3 separate regions of the Homo sapiens genome follow, and all the other regions are linked to region 1. The links come from fine-mapping of genetic effects on gene expression. A gene starts in region 1. Each other region holds a variant in brackets. All regions are shown on one strand. Distances are between the middles of the regions. Region 1 holds the start of BCL6 (BCL6 transcription repressor). Region 2 overlaps LOC105374264 (a long non-coding RNA gene). Region 3 overlaps LINC01991 (long intergenic non-protein coding RNA 1991).

Region 1 (2,762 bases):
CGCCTTCCCCCATTCTTACTCCCTCGAGGAGAGCCACAGGTTGCAAATCCAACCAACCTCGCAATCTATTTTTGCAAAATCACTCACAAAGATCTCCCTTTCGCGCCCGCGCCCGCTCCTCCCGCGCCGGGTCCCCTCAGCCACGGCCACAAAGTGCCCTTCTCTCCTCCTGAGTCTTGCACATAAGGAACGCGGGCTGGGGCTCTGTTCGTCTTTCTCCTCGCCCAAGGTAAGGACCTCGGGAATCTGAAGCCTGGCGTCCACTACGCTCAGGCCCGCAGTTCCCTTTTTACAGAGCTTGCACCATGGGAAAAAATAAAATAAAATTTAGGAAAGGGAGGCAACAGCCATTGGGAGCCAACACAGAGTCACGCAGCGCCCAAAATACAAACACCGCAGCGGCCAGAAATCCCGCCACCTTTCTCGTTCTCCCAGGCTGTCCTGTCGAGGTTCCCTGAGTCCCCCCGCACACTGAAAGGCATCGCAGGTGCAGTGCGCACCCCTTTCCCACCCACCCCAAGAAGCCCTGTCCCGCCATCAGTCTCTCTCCTCGGGATGAGCAGGGAGAGCGCGCGGAGGTTCCCGACTCCCTCGACTACAACCAAGAAAGAATAATTTTCAAAGTGTTCAACATCCCCGCCCCCAAGCTCCCCAAAACACAGGGGCAGGGAACACCAAAACACTCGGCTCTCATTAGGAAGATCACGGCTCTGAAAGGAAATAGTAGACACGATACTTCATCTCATCTGGATTTATGACCAAAAAAACAAAAACAAAAACCCAAAGAGTTCGCTTGCATTTTTTCCTTCCAAATCTCGGTTCGGCTCGAAGGCAGGGAATCTAAAAGACCGAGGCCGATGGAAGAGAGCCAGCGGGGCGAGCGAGCGGGCAGCCTCCCTTTTTGCCTCCCGGAGTTACCCAGAAGGACAGGGGAAGGGAAGGAAGAAGAGGCGAGGAAAAAGAGGAGGGAGGGAAGCGGAGGCCAGGAGCGACGGAGCAAGGAAAGCAGTTTGCAAGCGAGAAAAGAGGGAAAAAACACAGCCGCACGAATCCAGAGAGATCACAAGCCGTACGCAAGCAGCAGCAGAAAGAGCGAGAGCGCGAGCGCGCGTCCTCTCCGCGGTCTGGGGCCAGACAGCCCCCAGACTAGCCCGAATCACCCCCCAAGCACTGTCTCGTCCTCTCTGCTCCGGCCGCCCCCTAATTCCCCTCCTTCCTCTCCTCCACCTCCTTTCCAAAAACCAAAACAACACAAGGGAGGGTGGCAAAAGCCTCCCCAAACCGGCCGATTCACTCAAAGACAACAATAATAATAATAAATACATAACAATCTATATCCTATGGTGGGAGAGACGTGGGACTAATCTTCGGCATTTATTTTAACACCTGACAGCTAGAATAAATAAATATATACATTTATATCAATAGATACACATAGAAAACTTGGAGCCAAAGCATTTGGCAAGAGCGGAAAAAAAAAGAATTAAAAGGTAAAATAATGATCATGAGCAGCGGCGGCGGCAGCGGCACCAGCGGCAACAGCGGCGGCGGCGGCAGTAGCAGCAGCAGCGGCGGCAGCAACAGCAATAATCACCTGGTGTCCGGCCTTTCCTAGAAACTTCTTGCATCACCACTTCTAAGAACCCCAGTTCTAAGAATCAACAGAGCTCAATTCTCGGAATTTGAGCTTCGGACTTTACCACTGCTACGTGGCAGGGGAGGACTTGGTGTCAGCTCTCCGAGATTTTTACTGCCCCTGGCCAACCAAAAGCCCTCAAAGCCACAAGATTTTTTCACTGGCCGGCATATTTCGAGGTCCTCATAAGCAGAGCGTCTCGGATTTGGAGGTTCCGGTTCGAGGCTCGAGGGGCCTGAAGGTGGCTCTCCCTCCCCGGGCCCAAGACGATGGTATGGCCTGCTCCGCCACCATCACGTGGGCTCCTCCTCTGTGACGTCGGCGCCTTCGCTGTAGCAAAGCTCGGCCTCTGGAATTCTGAGAACTAATTTGCTATTCGGTGACATAAGAGGGGGAGTGCGCTTTGCTTTCCCGGGGTCTGGGGCTAATTCCTTCTTTCTTACCCATAAACTCAGCAGATCGAGCTAAATGCACAAAAGGGAGCGAGAGGTTTGAACCACTGGGAAAAGTATGTTATATATATAGTAGGGTTAGAGAGGCGAGTAAGAGAAAAATAAAATAAAATAAACATCACAGCTCTTTCCAACTAGAATATTAGGCACCACGAGAAAAATATTTGCCAAGCAGTTTTCGGTGGGTTCATTTGCTTTATTTTTATTTAGGACAGGGGTTTTTGCTGTTGTTCTGGGTTTTTTTCTTTCTGGTGTGGTGGCTTGGGATTTTTGGTTTCTGTATTTTGATGGTTTATGGATTTTTGCTTCTGATTTTTTGCCTTTTGCAAGTTTGTGGTGTTACGTAAATCACAGGATCGGCATCGGTTGGATTTTTTTGTACGTGCCTTTTCTTTCCCTATCTAATCCCTCAAGCGTTTTAAAGATGTATTATTTCAATACTAATACTATTGAAAGAAGCTTAAATTTTTGGCCATATGTAACAATCCCAGCCCCCACTTTTTTTTTTTTTTTTTCCTTTGGTGCAATTTTCTTTTTCCCCCTTGGACTTTTGCTGAAGTGTGTCTCTCCTGCACTTCAGAGAAATGTTCAAAGGATTTGTTTTGGTTTGGTTTGTTTCTTTCCAGGACAGCAAGTGGTGGGTTTAATCTGTTATTGTTGACTCTTGGGAAATT
Region 2 (2,762 bases), 110 kb after region 1:
TTGTGTAACACGGCAAATTTATGCTAACTGGTGACTTGCATGGTGTTGCCCTTGATTTACCTCCCCAAGAAAACCCAATAAGGAAGGCATGATTACCCTGCAATCTCATTTTACAAAGGCAAACTGAGGCTTTGGAGGAGTTCAGTCACTGGCTCAATATAACATTGCTGATAACAGGCAGAGGCAAGGTTCAAACCAGGGGTGTCTGAAGCCAGTCAAAACCGGGACTCTGAAGCCAAAGCCCTTTGTGTAACCACTCTACAGTTCCACTTCACTTGGATGGCTGAGCTGTGGGTGGGAGAGTCTCTGGGTCCCCGGAGTCAGTCATCTGAGTGTGTGCTCTTCCTGGGAAGAGGCTGATGCTGAAAGCTACCTTATTTAATGGCTGAGAAAAGTAGAACTGATGGTTGAGGAGAGGAGACCTGAGAGTGTGTCCCCAGCAGGAAGACAACTGGAGGAAGTGTTGCTGCCGCCACTGCCTTATAGATTTACTCTCATCTCCTGTGCCCCAGAATCTCCAGTGGTGCCCTGATGCCATCAGGGCAGGCCATATTCCAGGCATCTTGTTAAGGACACCCTTGATTTTGCCCCTATCAACATATTCAGCCATATCTCTTCATTCCCACCTACCCCAGCATAGCCCCAATTTTAGTATCAATGAACTCCACATTCTCAGAAAGCAATATGCTCTTTCATCCTTCCTGCCTTTGAATATGCTCTTCCTCTGCCTAGAATGACCTCTTTGCTCCTCTTGTCTGGAGAAACCTCACTCATCCTTAAAGTTATAATTCAAATGTCACCTCCTTTGTCACTTGTTCCTAGAGTCCTCCAGGGAGTTGGTCACTTCCTTCTCTGAGATCTCTAGAACTTTGTTCGGACCTCAGTTAGAGACTTGTCATCCCAGCAAAACTATGATATTTGCCCATATGGCCACTTTCTCACTAGACAGTAAGCTCCTCCCGGACAGACAGGGGCTATTTCATATTGCTCTCTGCTTCCTCTCAGCCCCATCCTATGTTCCAAGCACAATCCCTAAAACATAGCAGGCTCTTAATAACTGTGGAATGTTGAGCGAATAAACAAATAAAAGCCAAGAGAAGATGACCTTGAGGCTTGGTTTCCTGGGAGGAGACTCCGCCTTTCGTA[C/A]CCACAGACTCCTTTGAGCAATATCCCATCCATGGCATTGAGCCACCATCTGGGGCCATTGCACCAGTAGAAGCTCAGGGTGGGGCTGGTGTGAAAACAAACAGGCAAGACAACAACAAGGGTGTGTTGAAACCTTTAAACGTTCTATTCCTTGGTGTTCAAACTTGCCAAGCATACTAGGTCAGGTGGGTTCTTATTCCAGTACTCTGAGAGAATTGATCATAGGCACTAAGCTTTCACATTGGGTCAAGGAGCAAGGGAGAAACAAAGGAGATGTGAAATTGGCTTCCTTGTTCTGCTTTTCTCTTTGTGTGTGTATTTGTCTTTCCAAACAGAAGAAACCCTGACCTTCCCCTGCTTTAATTACCTAATTATTTTGACACCTTGGGCTGTTGCATCACCCCCACACAGTGTTTTGTCAAGGACACCACATTGGGTGTATCTAGGCTTAGGGAGAAGCAATTGACAAGAAACAAGTTCTGACAGCCAGGGAAATGTTGGGCAGAGGAAGAGATCTAGGGGAAGGAGGAGAGGGGTGGGGGAAGGAAGAAAGAGGAAACGTTTGGTATGCTGGGAAATGAGTATCTTGGGGAAGGTGGCAGCAAGGTTGGCAAAATTGGGTGTCTCTGCTTGGAAGGTTTCCCAGATTGGGTTTCAGGGAAGATTGTGTCCAAGCCAGAAAACTAGTGTGCTATAGGTCCCTAAAAAGGATGAAATACAGGAACTCAGGCTGTCATTCCAGGGACTACATCTAACTGAGAAAATTTCTTCACCCTGGACCTCGGTTTCCTCTCCTTAGAAACAAGGCAAGGCTTAGTATTTTTCTCCCAAGCACAAAAATGTTTTTACTCAAATAGTTTGGAGATATACACGGAAGAAATAATCAAAACAGTCATAAAGTCCTTCACAAACCATATTCTTCAAACAGTTAACGCTGAGGATTCTGAAAACTAACATGGGCAAGCTGAATATTTGTCAAAATTGTGAAACACGGCCCCAGCAAAGCACAGAAAGCTCTTCAATTCTAACCTCCAAGTATTGTGTATGGAGGAACCAAAAAAGCAGATGATACAGAGAAGCTGAAAGCCCGAAGGTCTGGAAACCTAAGGACAAAGCAGTGTGGTTCAGTGGTATGGTCCTGGGCTGAGACTCAGGAGACCTGGGTTTTAGACCAACTCAGCATTTACAACTTTACATCTGCCAGTCTAGATCTGTCATCTGCACAATAAAAGAATGAATCTCTGTGGGGTTCACACTCTTCAGGGTAGGAGTGAGGGGTTGTGCAGCAAGGTACCGAAGGCCACAGTTAAGTATGATGAATCTTCCTAGAACATCAATTTTACCTGGTGGCAAACACTTTAAGGCATTATTTTTCATTCAAAAATGAATTCACTTCCTCAACCAATAAGTATTGAGCAATGCTCTATGCCAGATGCTCTTTTAATATGAAAGTAAACATGGATATTTTATTATGGTTAATATCAATAATTTATATGAACTAAGGCAGACAAGGGTCTCTCAAATTATTTTTCATATGCAGTGATACTTCTTGTTGTGCCCATTTACTCTCACTTCCAATCAAATCATACTTTGTCCTCTTTTGGCCCTGGATACAC
Region 3 (2,762 bases), 220 kb after region 1:
AGCATAGGAAAGGAGATGGGATACAGAGGACAAATGGAAGGGTTGGCCTTAGAAACTATGCCACTTCCTCCACTATAATAAGAGGGAGGTAGTGTATGTGGGCACAGATGCAGGTGGGTTAAGGAAAAATGCAATAACTCTCCTCTGATAGCAAAAAGGAAGGTCATAATCCCAGGGCATGGGATGTGTAGAGCATAGTGGATATTCAAGTAGGGAGCTAAAGGTTTGAAAGAGTTGACCCAGAAACCAAAAAGTGAATTTGCTAAATGTATCATAGGATCCTCTGGCACGGTCCGTTTCAGGTTTGTGATCACAAATTTAAAGTGAACTGATCAGCATGGTTTACAATGTTCTTAACAACATTCCACTGTTTGGATGCAAGCAAAGGAGGAATTAGAGGATATACATTTCACCAGGATTGCAGTTTTGCCAGGTACGATAAAGGGGAAGGCAGCAGAGGAATGGGGGGTATTGGAAGGAGAGAGTTTATGGCACAGAGTAGAAGGAGTCAAGGTTGGAATAAGGTTTAAGGCTACCCAGTAACACAACATCACTGGGCTCCACACATATCCAAAGTGTCTGCCTGGACCCATCGGTATGCCAAGAATTTTCCTTCCCTCCAAAAAGGAAGCTCACTACTGACTTCACCTGGTGCCCGCCACATCTAGAATCCCCCTTCAGGGTTTTGCAGCCAATTAGGAACTGAGTGCTGGGCACCAAACTGGGTAGAAGAGTCACTCCTGAGCGCACACACACTTGCAGTGGAGTCTCAACACTTTATTTAGACCTAAAAGGCTGTGTGGCTGGCAGGAAAATACCCTACACATGCAGAGAGAAGACCTGGGTTTCATCAGTTTCTGTGGCTTTTACCAAATGAGAAAGTTTTTTTCATATCCTGAGCCTCTGTTCCCTCTCATCATAACTCTGGCCTGGCTTAAATTATAGCTGCTTATACAGATCTGATGAGATGGTGAATGTACAACCATTTTCAAGTGTAAAGAATTATGGAGATGTGAGAAATTACATTGTTATTATGACTCGGCAAGGGGGTACCAAATGCAAATCTAAGGCATTTACTGGTGTGAGATTGATTTCAAATGTCAGCTAATATAGGTCACCATGGCTTATAAGCAATTTGCCTTAAAATTAGAAACTTATGAAATGCTCAAGATGAAAGGCAGTACATTTCAAAACAGAGGCAATGGGAAGCAAATTTCTCTCTTTTTTGTGCAACATCCTATGAACCCACGGTTCTCACAGGCCCAGGATATTGCTGCAGTTGGCAGCCTGGTGTATTTTGAACAGCACAGTG[C/T]TGATCCCTGGGTAACTCTGTAATCCTGAGTGAGTCACTTTACCTTTGGAGGCCTCAATCGCCTTCTCTGTAAGGTGGGAAGAATTGTACTCCCTCCTGTTCCACTTACAGGGTATCAAGAAGATCATATTATTTTTAAAGGAAAAAAAGAACTGAGAAATACTCTTGGTTACTCTGCAAAGAGGTTGGTGTAAATGTGAAGTGTCACTATTATTAAGTGTGAGGCAATCTTTCCCACCCGCATCATGTCCCAGCATTACAATGTGAGCTGTGTGACAGGCTATTTTTAAATTCCCATCTCTGGAAGCATATGGTCCTGCACAGTGCCAAAAAGAGAAAAATGACCTGCTTCAGTTTGTTTGCTTGTTTGTTTTGATCTGATGGAACATTTTCTATGATCCTGTTAAAGGTTGTTCTTTCTACTTTAAACTTTTAAGGTGAGTGCTAAAGATTTTCTATAGCATAGTCTGAAACACACCGTGGCACTACAACTTGCTTAGACAATGATAAGAGGTCATCCCAGGGCGATGGTGTATTTATACAAATCTGCATTTTTTGTGTATCATCTAAGACTTTTCAAAAATATAGTTTTTTTATTTGTTAACAATTTTTATGCTTTTGTTCTCTAATTTTGGGTAGTTTTGTTTGTTCAGTAGCAGCATTTTTAGGTAAATTTTTTTTTGCAAATAGTAGTGCATTTATTTTATAAAATAAAGCGATTCCTTTTCTTTAATTTTCTTTAATGTTACCTACATAAAAAGAAGTTGTTTCAAAGTTATCCTGATTGTTTATTGTCATTTCTTTTATGTTTTATTAATATCAATTGCTATTGACTGAAGCCCTTTCCCATGACAAATATACAGTATATCTGTTATAAACTTCATTTTTGCTGCCCCCTTGACCTGACCTAACTTTACCTCCTCTCTTGTGCTATTTGGCAAGACTATCCTGAATCTTGTCAAACTTCCCACTCATTGAATTTGATTTCTGACACCAAATTCCTGGAAAGATATCTATCTGATCAGTTGGAAAAGAAAAGAGATAAAAACACCTATTTCACAAGTTTCACGGGACCTGACCTTTGCGCAAGAGCAAAAAATTTCCCCAGTTGAGGTAAATAAGGTTCCCACAAGCTTTTTTTCCTTTTTTCTTTTTCTTTAAGGTCCAGGATTCAACTCTCTTGTCTTTGGGTCAAGTGATAGCTAAAACTAGAATTGATGAAGTTTCATGGCATTTAACCAATGAAAAAGGTAATTTAAAAGGAGGGTGCTAAGGAAAACTCAGAAAGAAAGACAGGGCCTGCATCTTCAGCTAAATGATGAAATCAAGAACACGTAAGAGGAGTTTGAAGTGTTCTGTGTGATCCTGGGGGCCAATAAGAAAGCCAATTGAGGAAATTCACAAAAGCGCAAAATTAAAAAAAAATTATGAAGTTACAGACATATCCAAC

Evidence for each region. PIP is the estimated chance that this variant, and not a neighbour inherited with it, causes the effect.
Region 2: its variant is fine-mapped to the expression of BCL6 in whole blood (TOPMed, PIP above 0.99).
Region 3: its variant is fine-mapped to the expression of BCL6 in whole blood (TOPMed, PIP above 0.99).

What each region holds. Positions count from the first base shown.
Region 1 is chr3:187,743,816-187,746,577 of GRCh38, forward strand. BCL6 (BCL6 transcription repressor) reads right to left here and starts at 1,653. Exons shown (of 10, transcript NM_001706.5): 1 at 1,595-1,653. It overlaps BCL6-AS1 (BCL6 antisense RNA 1), which reads left to right. Exons shown (of 2, transcript NR_173091.1): 1 at 1-229; 2 at 1,429-2,211. RefSeq lists an enhancer at 766-1,291.
Region 2 is chr3:187,849,225-187,851,986 of GRCh38, forward strand. All of the region lies in intron 2 of LOC105374264 (a long non-coding RNA gene), which reads right to left. Among named protein-coding and RNA genes, the nearest start is that of BCL6, 110 kb to the left of the region's middle. The variant C/A (reference allele first, on the strand shown) is at 1,147.
Region 3 is chr3:187,962,612-187,965,373 of GRCh38, forward strand. The region is part of intron 2 of LINC01991 (long intergenic non-protein coding RNA 1991); the gene reads right to left. Among named protein-coding and RNA genes, the nearest start is that of LINC01991, 12 kb to the right of the region's middle. The variant C/T (reference allele first, on the strand shown) is at 1,313.